Regions from separate parts of the Homo sapiens genome. Here region 1 is linked to region 2. Evidence: fine-mapped expression QTL. A gene starts in region 2. The other region holds a variant in brackets. All regions are shown on one strand. Distances are between the middles of the regions.

Region 1 (4,406 bases), 290 kb after region 2:
TTTTAAAATGTCTAAAACTGGACATATGTCTATAAAGACATACACATATACATATACTATTACCCCATGCTCAGTAAATGTCAACATTAAATTGCAATGGCCTAAAACCTAGGCACCATCTTTGACTTTTCACACTCCACCTTCAATCAGACTTAACAGCAGCCTTTAGAATCTGCCCATTTATCATGTTGACTGTTAGCACTATGATCTAAAGCTATATCATTTCTTATTTGGATTATTGGAGTAGCCTCCTGAGTGATCTCCCCACGTTGCAGCAATCTGTCTGTCCCACACACAACCCCTTTAAACCTTATCAGATGGCATGGCTTTCCTCCAAACCTAATGGTTTCCCATCTCATTCGGAGTAAAAACACAAGGTATTAAAAGTAATCTACAAGGCTGTAGATAACTTTCTTCCCTACCTTTGCCTCAGCTTAATCCCCAATTCCTTGCTTGTCTCACCACCATTCCAACTCTCTCAGCTCAGTCACATGGGACTGCTGAGACTTGCAAAGATGTGTGAAGATGTTTACTCTTGTTCTTACCTTTGCCTAGGATGATCTTACCCCACATACCATACAGCTTCCTTTTCCCTAACTAGGTCTCTATTCAAATACCTTATCAGAGTGGTTTTTCTTGACTATTCTATAAATACACCAACACAGCATCACCTCTATAGAGTACATCATGGCATATTCAGTATTATCTATCTTATAGGTAATAATTGTCTCACCCTCAGCGCCACCCCAGTTCTATGAGGACAGATTTTTTTTCTCTTATTTATCAATGACGAGATGACTACTTGCAACATTTTAGGTGATCAAATATTTAACACAAATGACTGGGCCAAATGGTAGTCTGTCAAAGGTACATGTACTTACTCGTCATTTGTATATCTTCTTAGGGAAAATGTTTAATCTTTTGCTTGCTTCATTTCTAACTCCAAAAGAACAAAGAAAACTAATATACTATTAAAAATTTGTTAATCAGACCTTCTTTATTGTAAGTAAAATAATGCAGTTCAGATTCTGTCAGCCTGGATGATTACCCTGATAAATCCTTTGAAAAAGCAACCACTTGCTGGGGGAAAACTTTTTTTTTTTTTTTCGATGTGTCAATGTTCTATCAAGAAAGGAAGGAGTACTCTCACCAAAACCAAACTGAAACCAAGAACCCAGAAGAAAACAGAACATACCCAGAACCAGCTTGCATTGCATTTTGAAAACACTTGAAGTACCTACCCCAAGTGAACTTTTTTCATTTTTTCTACAAGACAGGGTCTTGCTGTATCACCCAGGCTGGAGTGCAGTGATACACCCCTCGACCTCCTGGACTCAAGCAATCCTCCCACCTCAGCCTCCTGAGTAGTTGGGGCTACTCGCCATGTTGCCCAGACTGTTCTTGAACTCCTGGGCTCAAGACCATTCGCCACGGCCTCCCAAAGTGCTGGGGTTACAGGCGTGAACCATCATGCCCAGCTGACCTTTAATTTTCATGACTCTGGCAAAGCCCAGGATGCACCCAAAAGTGGTGTCAAATACGAGAAACCCATTCCTAGTACAACTAGGACTCTACCTATCTTGAAACTTGGTGCTCTGTGACAGGAGAATATTGCGAGAATTTGTAATAACAGTTTGGGCTTTGTGAAGATTTGCAGGCTTAGGTGGTCCCAGGAAATTCAAGCAGAGGATTTAATTTTTAGAGTGATTCCAAATTAGTAAAACAACCAGCTACTGGCAGAAGCAAACACTGTAGGAATTGCATAATAGCTCACATTTTAAAACCAGCAAGAAAAAGTACAAGGTAATGTAGCACCATGAGTTGCCAACCAATTTGCAAGAATCAAAACATTAAATATCAATATTTTAAAAATATTAGTCAAATTGTAAAGGAAGACTAAATAAGTGACATCTTGTATATGGAAAATCCTAAATCATAAAAACCACTTAGCGCTCATAGAATTAGGCAAATTTGCAGGATACAAGATTGGCACAGAGAAATCAGTTGTATTTCTGTAAATAATTATTAATTCTAAGCAATCCATAAATGATGTTAAGAAAGTTCCATATACAATAGCATCAAAAAGAATAGGGGCCCAGTGCAGTGGCTCACACCTATAATCCCAGCACTTTCGGAGGTCGAGGCGTGCAGATCACGAGGTCAGCAGTTTGAGACCAGCCTGGCCAACTTGGTGAAACCCCATCTCCACTAAAAATACAAAAAAAATAAAATAGCTGGGTGTGGTGACGTGCACCTGTAGTCCCAGCTACTCGGGAGGCTGAGCCAGGAGAATTGCTTAAACCTGGGAGGCAGAGGTTGCAGTCAGCCGACATCATGCCACTGCACTCCAGCCTGGGTGACAGAGTGAGACTCTATTTCAAAAAAAGAAAA[AATTAAT/T]AAGGGAAATGCAAAAACATGTACACTGAAAACTATCAAACTTCTGAAAGAGAAGTCCTGAATAAATGAAAAGACATCCTGTGTTCATGGATTTGAAGATTTAATATGCTGAAATGACAGTGATTCTCAAAGCAATCTACACATTCAATGCAACCCCTATCAAAATCCCAATGACTGTTTTGCAGAAATGATAAAGTGTAAAAATTCATACGGAATTGCAAAGGACTGCAAGGAGCTAAACAATCTTTAAAAAGAATGAAAGTAAGGAACTCATACTTCCCTATTTCAAAAGTTAATACAAAGCTACAGTAATCAAAATAGCATACACAGGAACACATAGACTCATGGAATAGAATTGAGAGGCCAGAAATTGTCATACATTTACGGTCAGTTGATGTTTGACAAAGATGACAAGACCATTCAATGGGAAACAATAGTCTCTTTAACAATATGGTGTAGAGACAACCAGATATCTACATGCAAAAGAATGAATTTGGACCCCTACCTCACATCTTATGCAAAAATTAAAATGGATCAAAGTCACAAATGTAAGAGCTACTAAAACCATAAAACTCTTAGAAGAAAATGAGAGTGTATCTTTGTGTTCTTAGATTTGGCAATACTTAGAGATGACACCAAAAGCACAAACAACCAAAGGAAAAAGATAAATTGGACTTCATTAAGATTATAAACGTGTGTCAAAAGACATTATAAAAATGAAAGGATAACCTACAGAATGGACACAAATTTTCAAATCATCTATGATTAGGCTCTAGTATTCAGAATAAAGAATTTTTAAAACTCAACAAGAAGATGACCCTATTTAAAAACAGGCAAAAGATTTAAACATTTTCCCAAATAAGATAAACAGATGGCCAGTAAGTAAATGAAAAGATGTTCAACATACTAGTTATTAGAGAAATGCAAGTCCAAACCACAATGATGTATCACTTTTTACCCCATAGAATAGCTGTAAAATTTTAAAATAGAAAATGTGCTGGTGAGGATTTTGTGAAACTGGAAACCTGGTACAATGCTGGTGGGAATGTAAGATGGTGCAGCTTCTGTGGAAAGCAGTTTGGCAGTTCCCCAAAAAGTTGAACATAGAATTATTGTATGACTCAGCAATTTCATTCCTGGTTACGTACCCAAAACAACTGAAAACAGGTATTCAAACAAATACTTGTAAATGAATGTTCATAGCAGCACTCACTATTCACAATAGCCAAAAGATGGAAACAATGAAACAAATTGTGGTATTTCCGTACGATGGTATATTATTCAGCCACATGAAAGATTGTAGTATTGATGCATGCTATAATGTGGATGGGCCTTAAAAACATTTTGCTAAAAGAAAGGAGCAAAACATAAAAGGTCACATATTGTATAATTTCATTTATATGAATATCCAGAATAGTTCTATAGAGACAGAAAGCAGATTCAGCTACTAGGAAGATAGGGAAATGGGGAATGACTGCTTGATGGGTATGTAGTCTCTTGTGGGTGGTGAAAATGTCTTGGAACTAGAAGTTATGGCTATACAACATTGTGAACACATGAAATTACACTGAATTGTGCATTTTACAATAGTTAATATGTGAATTTCACCTTAAAATATCAGTGACAAAAGATAGTAATAACCAACATTTATGTAATACTTTTAAGTGTCAAGCACTTTTCTAAATTCTTCAGACACGCACGTGCGCGCGCACACACACACACACACACACAGATATTTTATTTATTTTTTGAGACGGAGTTTCGCTGCTGTTGCCCAGGCTGGAGTGCAATGGTATGATCTCGGCTCACTGCAACCTCTGCCTCCCAGGTTCAAGCGATTCTCCTGCCTCAGCCTCCCAAGTAGCTGGGATTACAGGTGCTTGCCACCACGCCTGGCTAATTTTTTGTATTTTTAGTAGAAATGGGGTTTCACCATGTTAGCCAGGCTGGTCTCAAACTCCTGACCTCAGGTGACCCGCCCCCCTCGGCCTCCCAAAGTGCTGGGATTA
Region 2 (4,406 bases):
CTGTATGTAGATCCTAATTTTAAAATTTTACACCATCATAAATGAACAAAGGTAGGAAGGAGTTTGGCTTCAATAGCTTACAGTAAAAGGAGTAAAGGAGTTCAGCCTCAAAACGATATTGTTGACCTGTTATGTTATGAAAAATAATCCAGTGTTTATACTTAACGGATGCCATCCCTTATTATTTACTATTTTCTTAGTCTAACTAAACAATCTTTATTAAAATAAGCAATGATATTTGACATGGGCCTAAGAAATATATAGTTAGCTAACAATATTGTCAGTTAGAGGGATTTCTTTTCTAAATTAAGTACAGATTTCTTCACCAAACTCCAGGATAACAGAAAAGAGGACATAAAATTTGGACATAGTTTCTGGATAAATAAATGTAAATTTAAATATAAATTATGTAACAGGAAACAAACGAAATTAAAGAAAATAAATTTTTCAAGAAAAGTAAATTTATGGATGTTAATTCTGTAACATTGTCAGGGCAAAGTTTTTTGTTTTTATTTTAATTTAAGGGTTTTATGTTTGTTTTTTACTTGTTGCAACCTCAAATGACCAAATGGTATGATGCACACTGAGATACTCAATAAATGTGCAGTGATTCTTAGCCTTTTTTCCTAGAACTTTAATATTAACATGGAAAATTCTGAAATGGACAACAAAAAGATAACACTTTGTGTATGGGGAAGAATATCATGCAGTTGATGACGGTACATTAAAATTCACACAAAAGGACATTTTGACTAGCATTCAGAAAGAGTCCATTGATTATAAGATTATCTATGAGGTTTTGGACCGGGCACTACACTACCGAATTATGGCTAACTTTGGTTTGTGATCTAGACCAAGTCACCCAATCTATCTTGGATTTTAGTTTTCTGGTTTATGAAATTAAGGAGTTAAGCTAAATGACTTGGGTTTCTTTTCGTGTATCATAATCAAAATGCTGTAACTTCTCTAGTGAATTCATAGAACACTGACTCTTACAAGTATGTCATGAAATACTTTATGCTGTGAGCAGGTATACATGTATAATATATGTATAGCTATGAACAAATAAATTTTAAATAAATGCACAACGAATTCTACAAAATGGGCTCCAACATTAACAAATGATCTGAGTTAGTCTTTCTCACAGCCGACCATAAACTATAAAACATTTTTATAAACACTATCAGCAATAAAAACGAAGTAAAATCTAGCCAAAAAATTCAATGTTCTCCAAAGTCATGTTAATCAAATCAGGTGATATATTAATGAAGTACATATGACTAAAAGGAAAAATATATGTCATTCCTGTGGTAAGAGGAAGCTGAATGTCACTAGAAATTTTTACAAGCTTTAGGAGAGGAAGAGTTCCGTTTAGGAAAATAATCATTTCAGATGATCTGAAGAAGGGTATTGGATGGAACCTATCCAATAGGTTCATCACAAAAGAGGACCTGAGAGACAAGAATGAATGGTTTCTGACTGGTGGAGAAATTTGAGGATAATCTCCCTTGCTTGAAAAGCGGTGATTAAGATTGGCACTTGCTTACAGGAGTGAAAAACAGGTAAGGGGTGCGCGCGTCTTAACACACACAAGAGGAAATACAGAGAAAAGGAAGACACAAACATGAAATGAGAATTAAATGAAATAGAATCACACTGCTGATAGAAGGGTTAAAAATCTAAAATACAACAAGAAGGGCAGGTGTTAAGCGATAAAGGGGGGCAGAACAAGTCTTTTATCCGGCCATTTAATTGGTCACCTTAAGAAAGAATCCTATCTTCCCACCGCAGCTGAGAAGACACTTCTAAGAGGTACAGCTAAAAGGTGGAGGACTGATAGACAACTTAGAGGTTGGTTTCGGGAACGATAAAACAAGTAACGGGCTGCCCGGCCTGCGCCGCGGAGTCCCGAGGAGCCTGCGCTGTGCTCCTCTCGCGGTGTCTCGTCATCTCCGGGAAGACTCGGCGCCTGGGTCCGCGCTCTCTGGGTAAGCTTTCCGGGAAGCTTTCCCGGGAGCTCGCTGGTCCTGGCCCCAGAAGCCTGCGGACCCGCCCAGGGAGGATAAGCAGCTGAAAGACCGCGCGGTGCCGCTCCGAGGCCCCGGGACGTGGGCCCATGGTCGGCCTGGCGCCACCTTTCCGGGGGAAGCCACGCGCACCAGGCATCGCACGCGGCTCTGCACCCGCGCCGCCGGACCTGAAACCCGGCGGAGGGCACACGGGGCTGCCGCTGCGGGCCCCGGACCAACCCATGCTTACTCCGGAGCCTGTACCGGCGCCGACGGGTCGGACCTCCCTGCGCGGTGTCGCCCAGCGGGTTCGTGCGAAAGGCGGGGCCGACTACACGCGGTGCCGCGCCCTGAGACCGTTTATCTGCAGTCAACGCAGCCTCCCGGCTCAGCCTGGGAAGATGCGCGAATCGGGAACCCCAGAGCGCGGTGGCTAGACCGGGCTCCGCCGCCTCCCCCACAGCCCCTTTCCTAATCGTTCAGACGGAGCCTGGTCGACTTCGCCGGAGACTGCCAGGTGAGAGGCCCCAGAGACACTAAGGGTAAAAATAAACCCAGCGCCAGCGGCGGGTACCCTGTAGGCCTGCTGGACCGGAGACGCGAGCGAGGGGCCCAGCCTTTTCTGTTTGTACACCCGGTGACGGGCGCGTGTCTGTTTACTGTTGTAAGGTGTTGGCGTGGGTTTTCTTGCTTGCTTTTATTTTAGTTCTCAGATTAACCAGAGGGGGTGTTGCCTTTGTGGACTGGGTTAGCATCCTCGAGGTGCTAAGAATCATCGTATGCTATTGACTGAAGAATATAACCTTAAGACAGCAGTAGCTGCTGTAAGAGATAAAGTAAAACATCTCAGTAACTAAACATAGTTCAGGCTTATTTCTCGTTCATGTCAAGTCCATTCACGTGTTCAGCTGTTGGCCTTCTACTCAATTATTCAGGAACCCAAACTCCTTTTATATTATGGCTTTGCTATCCCCTAAGACCTTGGAGTCCTTAGTTTCCAGGCAACGGACAGAAAAAGAAAAGCTACTAGAGGATTGCATGAGGATTGTTTCTTATGGGTGAGGACTGGAAATCACATACTATTTATGTCCACATGCCATTGACCAGACTTCAGTCACATGCCACACTGACCTGCAAGGGAGACTGGAAATGTACTATGGACCCAGGCAGAAGAGTAAACGATTTTGGTAAACACATATCAGTCTCTGACCATCCCTTAAAGGGCAGACTGCATCTTAGTCATCTTTGTTACTCTTGTGCCTATCACACCAGAGAAACTTGTTAAGGCTTTGTGAGGCCGAGGTGGGCATATCACCTGAGGTCAGGAGTTCGAGACCAGCCTAGCCAACATGGTAAAACCCCATCTCTACTAAAAATATAAAAATTAGCTGGGCATGGTGGTGCACGCCCGTAATTCCAGCTATTCCGGAGGCTGAGGCTGAAGAATCGCTTGAACCCAGGAGGCACAGGTTGCAGTGAGCCAAGATTGTGCCACTGCACTCCAGCCTAGGTGACAGAGCAAGACTCCATCTCAGAAAAGAAAAAAAAGGAAATGAAACTTGTTAAGGGATGGGGTTGTTATGTGTCTAAAGTTGAAACTTAACCATATTTCATTGTGATTGCTTAGGAATCATTTATCATCCTTTATCATCCTGTAACTAGATTACAAGATCTGAATATAGGAACTATTTAAGACCGTTCACTTCTGAATCCTCAGCTCAAGGACTGGGACGTAACAAGAGCTTAATAGCTCTTGTTTGTTGAATGAATGAATGAATCATCAGAGAGGAAAACGAGGGAGACAGTTTGTCAATGTTGGAGTTAGGAAATACTGAGAAGGTGACATTTGAGTTAGATTTTGAATTTCTTCAAGTAGAAAAAGCAGAAATGAAACTCCAGGCAGCAATAGTAGTGATATTTTATTGTTGTTGTTTTGTTTCATGAGTGGAAATTTGGAAAACAACCAAACGTTTATAAGTCCAACTTTTCTTCATTCAGTATTCAAATATTACAATTTAACTTCAGGGTAGAGGAGGGGAAATACATAATCTTACAATCCAAATAATTTCTGTTGACTAAAAGAATGGCAGTGAAAACCTTGGCACTAATTTTTAACTTTATAAAATGTTATTTTCTGGACATTTTTGAGAAATTTCAATACAAAGGCAGTGTTCTGATCATTCATTGTCTATGATGATTTTGCACTGTAACAAGAAGCTAGAAAGATAGAAACTAAAGTTTGTAAGACAGAGGTTCCTCATCACTGCTGTTCATCAGGGCTTCTCAGGGATGGTTCTGCAACAAAATCACCTGTTATATTGGTTAGGATGCTTTTGGCTGCAAGTAACAGGATATTCAGCCAAAACTCCCTTCAAAAATACAGATGTACTTTGCTCA

Alleles and levels. Alleles are on the strand shown, and positions count from the first base shown. SD is a standard deviation of normalised expression in the study named.
For the expression in pancreas of the gene that starts at base 1,949 in region 2, allele T in region 1 goes with a lower level than allele AATTAAT (large effect, 0.77 SD a copy in GTEx).

The links. PIP is the estimated chance that this variant, and not a neighbour inherited with it, causes the effect.
Region 1: its variant is the best candidate, but not a certain one, in a credible set for the expression of SLC9B2 in pancreas (GTEx, PIP 0.53).

What each region holds. Positions count from the first base shown.
Region 1 is chr4:102,788,641-102,793,046 of GRCh38, reverse strand. All of the region lies in intron 4 of LOC102723704 (a long non-coding RNA gene), which reads right to left. Among named protein-coding and RNA genes, the nearest start is that of MANBA, 30 kb to the right of the region's middle. The variant AATTAAT/T (reference allele first, on the strand shown) is at 2,392.
Region 2 is chr4:103,074,304-103,078,709 of GRCh38, reverse strand. SLC9B2 (solute carrier family 9 member B2) reads left to right here and starts at 1,949. Exons shown (of 12, transcript NM_178833.7): 1 at 1,949-2,526. It overlaps BDH2 (3-hydroxybutyrate dehydrogenase 2), which reads left to right. Exons shown (of 10, transcript NM_020139.4): 10 at 1-1,118. RefSeq lists an enhancer at 1,950-2,069 and a silencer at 2,180-2,289.